2 separate regions of the Homo sapiens genome follow, and region 2 is linked to region 1. The links come from fine-mapping of genetic effects on gene expression. A gene starts in region 1. The other region holds a variant in brackets. All regions are shown on one strand. Distances are between the middles of the regions.

What was found. PIP is the estimated chance that this variant, and not a neighbour inherited with it, causes the effect.
Region 2: its variant is fine-mapped to the expression of ZNF491 in T cells (TOPMed, PIP 0.99).

Annotation. Positions count from the first base shown.
Region 1 is chr19:11,796,211-11,801,584 of GRCh38, forward strand. It overlaps ZNF491 (zinc finger protein 491), which reads left to right and starts at 2,313. Exons shown (of 3, transcript NM_152356.4): 1 at 2,313-2,517. RefSeq lists a silencer at 1,305-1,474 and enhancers at 1,568-2,079, 2,305-2,404, 2,415-2,574.
Region 2 is chr19:11,568,918-11,574,291 of GRCh38, forward strand. No RefSeq gene overlaps it. Among named protein-coding and RNA genes, the nearest start is that of ACP5, 6.0 kb to the right of the region's middle. The variant T/C (reference allele first, on the strand shown) is at 2,517.

The sequences.
Region 1 (5,374 bases):
GGTTGTGAGCATATAGTTGTTCATAGTAGTCTCTGATGGTATTTCTGTGGTATTGGTGTAATGTCTTCTTTTTCAATTCTGGTTTTGTTCATTTGAATCTTCTTTTTTTTCTTGGTTAGTCTAGCCAGCAGTTTATTACTTTTGTTGATATTTTCAAAGAACCAACTTTTTGTTTCGTTTATCATTTGTGTTGTTTTTTAGTCTTGATTTTGTTTAATTCTGCTCTGATCTTTGTTATTTCTTTTCTGCCAACTTTGGATTTGTTTTGTTCTTGTTTTCCTAGTTCCATGGGGTACCATGTTAGGTTGTTAATTTGTTACTTTTTTGACAGAGGCATATAATTCTATAAACTTCCCTCTTAGCATGACTTTTCCTATATCCCAGAGGTTTTGATATGTTGTGTTGCCATTTTTGTTCATTTCAAACAAAATTTTTATTTTCTGTTTTTATTTCTTCTTTGACTCAGAGATCATTCAGGAGCACATTGTTTAATTTCCATGTATTTATACAGTTTTCAAAGTTCCTCTTGGTATTGATTTTTAGTTTTATTCAGCAGTCTGAGAAGATGCTTGAAATGATTTTGACTTTAAAATTTGTCGAGACTAGTTTTGTGGCCTAACATATGGTCTACCTTGGAGAATGTTTCACGTACTGATGAGAAGAATGTATATTCTGCAGTTGTTGGGTTCTGTAAACGTCTGTTAGCTCCATTTGGTCCAAAGTCCAACTTAAGTCCAATTTTTTTGTTGATTGTCTGTCTTGATGATATATCTACTACTGTGTGTGAGGTGCTGAAGTCCCATACTATTATTGTATTGCTATCTATATCTTTCTTTAGGTCTAGAAATATTTGCTTTATTAATTTGGCCTCTCCAATGTTGGATGCATATATATTTAGTATTACTATATTATCTTGCTGAATTGATTCTGTTATCAGTATCTCATGATCTTCTTTGTCTTTTTGTACTGTTTTTTATTTAAAGTCTATTTTATCTGATACAACTATCACAACTCTTGCTGAAGCACAGTGGCGAGATCATAGGTCACTGAAGCTTCAAACTCCTGGGCTCAAGATCTTCCCACCTCAGCCTCCCGAGTAGCTGGGACTACAGGTTCAGGACACCACGCACTGCTAATTTTTAAATTTTTAGTACAGACGAGGTGTGGCTCCGTTTTCCAGGATGATGAACTCCTGGGTTCAAGCAGTCCTCCCGCTTCAGCCTCCAAAAGGGTTGGGATTATAGGCGTGAGCCCCCGCACCCTGCCTGCAAGTCTTTTAATTCACTTCAATTATCTTAGAATTTTCCTTCCCCACTTTATACATACGTACAGTGGAACTGAGGGTGTTTGTCTCAGGTAACCGATCAATGAAGTGAATAACCTGTAGGGGGCAGCAGAGCCTAAGGCCAGTGACACCCTGCTGAGGCCAGTCTGGAGCCGGCAAAGGGAGGGAAAGGGAGCTCCCCTGGGTGTTTCCCGGGCAGCCTGCCCTCTACTGCAGGTGGCCTCCAGCTGCTCAGAACAGCTGCGGAAGGAATGTGGATCCTGAGAAGCTACAGAGCCCTGGAAAGCAGGAGACTCACGTGCAGGTGCACTTTGTGTAGGGGGGTTGGGGGGAGGTTCTGTCCTTACTGGGGCTGTACCTAGAGCCTAGGGACGTTTTGCGGGGGCAGTGTTTGGTTTTTACGTGCAAAGGGTCCCGGCGACAGACTGTAATTTGTACATACAAAGATAATCTGTGAAGATCAGGCTCAGTAAGATTTGTCTGACATGTCACCTGGAGAAAGGGTTTGTGAAGGTAATAGTTTACTTAGGTTAGAAGCTTAAACTGACCCCAGGTGAGAACTTCTGCTGGTGAAAATGAAGTCTAGGGGGAGGAAGCGGTTCCATATTCAGGGGTGGGACGGGGGGAGTGTGAGGAAGTCTCATCCCCAATTCCCGCCCTGTAGAGGACACCTGCCTCTCCCTCCTGGTGCAGTCTTGCCTGGCCTGGCCTGGCCTGGATTTCCTTCCTGCTATGAGGCAAAGGAATGACTCCATTGAACACCGAGTCTGGAATTCCCAGCACACATTTCTGAAAGATCGAGGAAGCTAACAGTGCCCCTTCTAACAATAAGTAGCAAGTTTGGCTGAAATGCAGATAGCCAACGACCAGGGCGCAGGGAGTGAGCTTAGCCTTAGAAAGGCTGTAGCTAGGATTAATCAGCCGGGCTCTGCAGGGCTCCGTTACCCAGGGCTTACCCTGTCACTCAGGGCTGAGGGGCGGAGCCTGGAACCCCATCCAATCAGGGGCCCTGGGACGGGGCCCTGCCAACTGTCAATCCGGGGAAGCAGAAGGCCGCACTCAGAGTCTCTGCACTCCTTTGTTGCTGGGGTCCGTTGCGTTCTGCATCCAGTCCTTGCTGCTCCGAGAGGCCCCAGGTGCCTCCGCCACGGCTCCTGTGACGCTGTCACCTGCGCTGTGACCTGCTCCGGAGTCATAAAGAGGACGCCGGGACACCAAGAAGCAGGGAAATGGTAAAGTGCCCGGCCTAGCGTCCAGATACGTGGAAGAGGGGCTGGGTGGAACCAACAGGATCCTGCTGTGGCGGGACCCAGGCCTCCGCTCGGGCGACCCCGGCGATTGGGACCCGCGTCCCCCATGGCGTGGCTTGGCCCTCGGTCCGCTCGGCCGCCAGGTGGGGCTGGGCCCGCAGCTGGGACCCCGGGCGTCCTGTCCCGTCCCTACGCGGCGACTGCGGCCCCGGCCCCGGAGTCCTCTCTGGGCAGCTCCGCGCCCGCAGCCCGGCGTCTTCCCAGATTGTGCGGGGGCCACGGGAGGGTCATGGGGGGTCGGATGTGTCCCGCCTTTCTTCTGCTAAAAATTAAACTGAGGCTCTGTTAACAGTTAAAGAGTTTGTTGGAGCAACAGCGATTCCGAGTGAGAAACACCCGGTCATGGCTTGTGATTGAAGAAAAGGCTTTTATAAGTTGCATGAGGAGGCAAACAGGATTAAATACTTGATTAGTTACAGTGATGCTGTCGCCGTATGTGGACTTGTCAACCTGAAATAAAAGAATCAGATTCCAGTTTTTTAAAGTTTACTCAAGCAAGAAGCTGGGAATGGCCCATTTGGGAAAACACAGGATCCACGGAAATGGGCTCAGTGTTTCAAATTTAAAAGTTTAAGTTCTTGCTTATATAGGCAAGAAATTTAACAGGATTACAACGTTTTTTATACAAGGCTAGTTTGTGAGGCACAACAATTTAATCAGAGTTTGGCCCGCCCCCCTCCCCCCGCCCCCATAGAGCTTTTTTTTTTTTTTCTTTACATTTGGGTTTCATTTCCTTTCCAATTTAAAAGAGTATATTTAACATTCCAGCGTAAGGCAAGGTGATGCCAGCGTGGACAACATGGCGAGACCCCGTCTGTACAAAATATTTTAAAAAATTAGTCGGGTATGGCCGGGCGCGGTGGCTCACGTCTACAATCCCAGCACTTTGGGAGGCCGAGGCGGGCGGATGACGAGGTCAGGAATTCGAGACCATCCTGGCCAACATGGTGAAACCCCGACTCTACCAAAAATACAAAAATTAGCTGGGCGTGGTGGCACGTGCCTGTAATCCGGCTACTCGGGAGGCTGAGGCAAGACAATCGCTTGAACGCAGGAGGCGGAGGTTGCGTGAGCCGAGATGGTGCCACTGCACTCCAGCCTGGCGACAGAGCGAGACTCTGTTAAAAAAAAAAAAAATTAGTCAGGTATGATGGCCGCTTCTGTAGTTAGTCTGGAGGCTGAGGCAGGAGAATTGCTTGAGCCCAGGAGGTGAAGGCTGCATCAACGACAGTATTGAATTTACAGCTAATAGGCAAGGTGAGGGAGAGGATGGAAGTTGGTTTAGTGTCAAGAATTAGGGAAGAGATTGTCAAACGTAGGGAAAAGGGACTTGATTGGATATCAGGTTTGGGGGAATTTTCTCTAAACTCCCTTAGAAGGGTTTTTGCTACCACAGGGCTCTGCAGGAAAAGGCCAAAGTCTACTCAAGAAGAGGGGGGCTCTGAGGAGCCTGACTAGTTTGATCAAAGAGGGAGTTTTTGGGACCCCTCTCCCAGCCTAGTTCTTCCCAGGTATGACAGTAAATCCCTAAATTTCTGGTTTTCTCCTCACATTCAAAAACACCAACTTCCCCTCGCCAATTGACATCCTTATCAATTATGTGTTTCCCATGCTACATTTGAAACAGCTGCCATATTTTATCATTTTTCCACAGACAAATGAATAGCACTATTTAAAAATGTTATCAACACCTCTGAAAATAAGGAAAACTTTTTTTTTTTTTTTTTTTTTGAGACAGTCTCACTGTGTCTGTTGCCCAGGCTGGAGTGCAATGGTGCTATCTTGGCTCACTGCAACCTCGGCCTCCTGGGTTCAAGCGATTCCCCTGCCTCAGCCTCCCAAGTAGCTGGGATTACAGGCATGTGCCGACATGCCCGGCAGATTTTTGTATTTTTAGTAGAGACACGGGAAAGAAAACATTTTTTAAAAATTTTAGTCCAGGCACAGTGACTCACTCCTGTAATCCCAGCACTTTCAGAGGCCCAGGTGGGAGGATTGCTTGAGCCTAGGAGTTCAAGACCAGAGTGGGCAGGGCAACATAGCAAGATCTCATCTCTACTGAAAACAACCAAACAAAATAGCTGGGCATGGTGTCATATTCCTGTAGTCTCAGCTACTATACTCGGGAGACTAAGGCGGGAGGATCGCTTGAGCCCCGAAGATCCAAGGCTGCAGTGAGCCTTGAGGGCACCACTGCACTCCAGCCTGGGAGACAGGGTGAAAATTTTCCTCAAAAAAACAAAAACTTTAGGGCTTGGCATGCTGGCTTACACCTGTAATCCCAGCACTTTGGCAGGCCGAGGTGGGAGGATCACTTGAGTCCAGAAGTTTAAGACCAGCTCAGCAACATAGAGAGACCCCGTCTCTATTAAATAAATAAATAAAATTTTAAAAAGAAAAAAATTATATTTTGTTTATGAATATTTTTTATGAGAGGAAACTATTCAGTAACTACCCAAAATGACATTGGGTAAAACTCCATGGCTGATTCTTGACATTGATCATCTTTTCATGTGTTTGTTGGCCATTTGTGTATGTCTGGGAGAAATGTCATTAAAATCCATTGCTTGGCTGGATGTGGTGGCTCATGCCTATAATCTCAGCACTTTGGGAGGCTGAGGCGGGTGGATCATGAGGTCAGGAGTTCAAGACCAGCCTGGCCAACATAGTGAAACCCTGTCTTTACTAAAAATACAAAAATTAGCTGGGCATGGTGGTGCATGCCTATAGTCCCAGCTACTCAGGAGGCTGAGGCAGGAGAATTGCTTGAACCTGGGAG
Region 2 (5,374 bases), 230 kb before region 1:
GGCTGGTCTCGAACTCCTGATCTCAAGTGATCTGCCCGCCTCAGCCTCCCAAAGTGTTGGGATTACAGGTGTGAGCCACCACCCCTGGCCAGGATTGCATTTTGGAAAGATCACTGCTTAATTATAACAGTTGGCCAGACATGATGGCTCACACCTGTAATCCTGCATTTTGGGAGGCTAAGGAGGAAGAATCACTTGAGGTCAGGAGTTTGAGACCAGCCTAGGCAACATAGCAAGACCCCATCTCTACAAAACACACACACACAAAATTAACCAAGAGTGGTGGGGTGAAGCTGTGGTCCCAGCCACTCAGGAGGCAGAGGCAGGAGGATCCCTTGAGCTCAGGAGGTGGAAACTGCAGTGAGCTATGATTACACCATTGCACTCCAGCCTGGGCAACAGAGTGAGACACTGTTTCAAAAAAAACCAAAAAATTGTAACAGTAACACATACACCTTGTAACAAATTCAACAGTATTGACATCTATAAAGTAGCAAATTATACCAAGATACACACACACACACACACACACACACACACACACACGCGCGCGCGCAAAGTAACAAATAAGCCGGAGCAGTAGCTCATGCCTGTAATCTCAGCACTTTGGGAGGCCTAGGCGGGTGGATCACCTGAGGTCGGGAATTCAAGATCAGCCTGACCAACATGGAGAAACCCTGTCTCTACTAAAAAATACAAAATTAACCAGGCGTGGTGGCGCATGCCTGTAATCCCAGCTACTCAGGAGGCTGAGGCAGGAGAATCGCTTGAATCTGGGAGGCAGAGGTTGCTGTGAGCTGAGATCACGTCACTGCACTCCAGCCTGGACAGCAAGAGGGAAACTTCTTCTCAAAAAAAAAAAAATAAGTAAAATAACAAATGAAAGGTGACAATTTCACCAAGTGCCTCTCCCCAGAAGTAACCTCAGTTACTTTTTTTTTTTTTTGAGATAGTCTCCCAAACTGGAGTGCAGTGGCGTGATCACAGCTCACTGCAGCCTCCACTTCCCAGACAAGAACGATTCTCATGCCTCAGCCTCCCAAATAGCTGGGATTATAGGCATGCATCACCAGGCCTGACTCATTCTTTTGTATTTTTTAGTAGAGGTGGGTTTTTGCCATATTGGCCAGGCTGGTCTTGAACTCCTGTCCTCAAGTGATCTGCCTGCCCCTACCTACCAAAGTGCTGGGATTACAGGCATGAGCCACTGCACTCAGCCCTGTTTACATTTTGTCCAGATTCATTTCACTCCGCTAGGCAGGCAGCTGGAGCCAAACAACTGGGTCCCTGCCGTGTAGCAGTTGCAAGTGGCGGTTGAGGGTGGGCCAAAGGAGGGGTTCCTGTGCCTTGCCTAGCGCTAATGGCCTGGGTTGCCTGGGGGTGGGTGTTACTTAACTCTCCCTCAGAGGGGAACTGGGCTCCCCTGCAACTGTCACATCAGGTCTAGCACTCTGCTTTCAGTATAAGAAAAACAGGCCCTGAGATTTTTTTTTTTTTTTTTTTCCCCTGAAACGGAGTCTCATTCTGTTTCCCAGGCTGGATTGCAGTGGTGTGATCTCGGCTCACTGCAACCTCTGCCTCCTGGGTTCAAGCGATTCTCCTGCATCAGCCTCAGTAGCTGGGATTACAGGCACGTGCCACCATACCCAGCTAATTTTTTGTATTTTTAGTAGGGATGGGGTTTCACCATGTTGGCCAGGCTGGTCTCCAACTCCTGACCTCAAGTGATCTGCCTGCCTCAGCCTCTCAAAGTGCTGGGATTACAGGTGTGAGCCACTGTGCCCAGCCCTGAGATAATTCTCCTTCTAGAAGTTTTCTTACACATTACTTTCACAGCATTGGTCCAGGGACCACCACTGCAGCCTTGTTGGTAAGAGGGAAACAATTATTTATTTATTTATGTATTTTGAGAAAGAGTCTCGCTCTGTTGCTCAGTCTGGAGTGCAGTGGCGTCATATCGGCTCACTGCAACCTCCGCCTCCCGGGTTCAAGCAATTCTCTGCCTCAGCCTCCCAAGTAGCTGGGACTACAAGCACACGCCACCATGCCCAGCTAATTTTTGTATTTTTAGTAGAGACGGGGTTTCACTATATTGGTCAGGCTGGTCTCAAACTCCTGACCTCAGGTGATCCACCTGCCTCGGCCTCTGAAAGTGTTGGGATTACAGGTGTGAGCCACCATGCCTGGCCTAGAAGGAAAGATTTAAAAAGACCACGGCTGGGTGCGGTGGCTCACGCCTGTAATCCCAGCACTTTGAGAGGCCGAGGTGGGTGGATCATGAGGTCAGGAGTTCAAGACCAGCTTGGCAAAGATGGCGAAACCCCATCTCTACTAGAAATACAAAAATTAGCTGGGCATGGTGGCGTGTGCTTGTAGTCCCAGCTACTTGGGAGGCTGAGGCAGAGAATTGCTTGAACCCGGGAGGCGGAGGTTGCAGTGAGCCAAGATCGTGCCACTGCACTCCAGCCTGGCTGATGGAGTGAGACTCCATCTCAAAAAAAAAACCTCAATGAGGC[T/C]GAGCACTTTGGCACTTTGGCTCACGCCTGCAATCCCAGCACTTTGGGAGGTTGAGGCAGGAGGATCACCTGACCCTGTGAATTTGAGGCTGCAGTGAGCTATGATCCTGCCATTGCACTCTAGTCTGAGTGACAGAGCAAGATTCTGTCTCTCAAAACAACCCCCAAAACCAATAAAATCCTGCAAGGGGCACTAGCAAGGAGCCAGTGACATAAGGCAGAAGCTTCGTGGCTGTCAAAAAGAAGTGCGATCTTTTTCCTTGTTCCTGGGAATCCTGCAAACATGTCTGCCCCATAGGTAATGCGTAGACAAGGTCATTTGTTATGACATTGAGGATTGCAAAATTGTTCGAAGTGTTACAGGAAAGGGGTCTCGATCCAGACCCCAAGAGAGCATTCTTGGATCTTATGCAAGAAACAATTCAGGACTGGGCACAGTGGCTCATGCCTGTAATCCCAGCACTTTGGGAGGCCAAGGCAGGTGAATCACCTGAGGTCAGGAGTTCAAGACCAGCCTGACCAACATGGTGAAATGCCGTCTCTACTAAAAATACAAAATTAGCCAGGCATGGTGGTGGGGGCCTGTAATCCCAGCTACCTGGGAGGCTGAGGCAGGAGAATTGCTTAATCGGTTGAACCCAGGAGATGGAGGTTGCAGTGAGCCAACATTACACCCATGTACTCCAGCCTGGGTGACAGAGTGAGACTCCATCTCAAAAAAGAAAAAAAAAAAAGTGGAGTGCAGTAACGGGAATGTGTGCAGAACTATGTGTATATTGTGTTGCTTTTGGTGTAAAAAATGGGAATGTGTTTGCAGTGGCATGCCCCTGTAATCTCATCTACTCGGGAGGCTGAGATGGATCACTTGAGCCCAGGAGCTCAAGACCAGCCTGGGCAACATAGCAAAACTCTGTCTCTGAAAAACAGTCTGGAAGCAATAGCTCATGCCTGTAATCCCAACACTTTCGGAGGCTGAGGCAGGAGGATTGCTTGAGCCCAGGAGTACAAGACCGGTTTGGGCAACAGAACAAGACTCCCATCTCTACAAAAAAAAAAAATCTAAAAATTAGTTAGGAGTGGTGGTGCGTGCCTGTAGTCCTAGCTACTTGAGAGGCTAGGGTGGGAGGATTTCTTGAGCCCAGGAGTTTGAGGCTGCAGGGAGCTATGATTGCACCACTGCACTCCAGCCTGGACAATATAGCAAGACCCCTCTCCCTAAAGAAATAATAGGCCGGGCACGGCGGCTCACGCCTGTAATCCCAACACTTTGGGAGGCTGAGGCGGGCAGGTCATGAGGTCAGGAGATTGGGACCATCCTGGCCAACATGGTGAAACCCCATCTCTACTAAAAATACAAAAATTGCCAGGCGCGGTGGCTCACTCCTGTAATCCCAGCACTTTGGGAGGCTGAGGCAGGCGGATCACGAGGTCAGGAGATTGAGACCATCCTGGCTAACACGATGAAACCCCATCTCTATTTAAAAATACAAAAAACGAGCCGGGTGTGGTGGCAGACGCCTGTAATCCCAGCTACTTGGGAGGCTGAGGCAGGAGAATGGTGTGAACCCGGGAGGCAGAGCTTGCAGTGAGCCGAGATCACGCCGCTGCACTCCAGCCTGGGCGACAGAGCAAGACTCCATCTCAAAAAAAAAAAAAAAAAAAAAAAAAATTAGCTGGGCGTGGTGGCGCGTGCCTATAATCCCAGCTACTCAGGAGGCTGAGCCAGGAGAATTGCTTGAATCTGGGAGTTGGAGGTTTCAGCGAGCCGAGCTCACGCCACTGCACTCCAGCCTGGTGACAGAGTGAGACTCCATCTCAAAAAAAAAAAAAAAGAAAAAAAAAAGAAAATAATAAAGGGAATGTTTTGATTATGGAGGCATAGACTATATAGAGAAAGAAAATGATTAATATTAGTTGCCCCTGGGGTGGAGGAAGACTTGCTTTATGTTGTACCCTTCTTTCTGCTTGGATTTTATTGAATTAATTTTTTTTTTGAGACAGAGTCTTGCTCTATCACCCAGGCTGGAGTGCAGTGGCACAATCTCAGCTCACTGCAATCTCCGCCCTCACCTCTCCACCCCCTTTACCCGCAAACCCCCTAGGCTCAAGTGATTCTCTCGCCTCAGCCTCCCAAGTAGCTGGGATTACAGTCATGTGTCACCACGCCTAGATAAGTTTTGTATTTTTAGTAGAGATGGGGTTTCACCATGATGGCCAGGCTGGTCTTGAACTTCTGACCTCAAGTGATCCGACCACCTAGGCCTTGCAAAGTGCTGGCATTACAGGTGTGAGCCATCGTGCCTGGCCTATTTTATTTACTTATTTTTTTTGAGACAGATTCTTGCTCTGTCACCCAGGCTGGAGTACAGTGGCACAATCTCAGCTCATTGCAACCTCCGCCTCCTGGGTTCAAGCAATTCTCCTGCCTCAGCCTCCTGAGTAGCTAGGACCATAGGCTCCTGCCACCACAACTGGCCAATTTTTTTTTTTCAGGCAGAGTTTAACTCTTGTTGCCCAGGCTGGAGTGCAGTGGCGCAATCTTGACTCACTGCAGCCTCCACCTCCCAGATGCAAGTGATTCTCCTGCCTCAGACTCCCAAGTAGCTGGGATTACAGGCACTCGCCAGCAAGCCTGACTAACTTTTTGTATTTTTAGTGGACATGGGGTTTCACTATGCTGGCCAGGCTGATCTTGAACTCCTGACCTCAAATAATCCACCCGCTTTGGCCTCCCAAAGTGCTGGGATTACAGATGTGAACCACTGAGCCTGGCCTCTGCTTGGATTTTATTTTTTTTTTATTTTTTATTTTTTTGAGATGGAGTCTCGCTCTTTCACCCAGGCAGGAGTGCAGTGGCG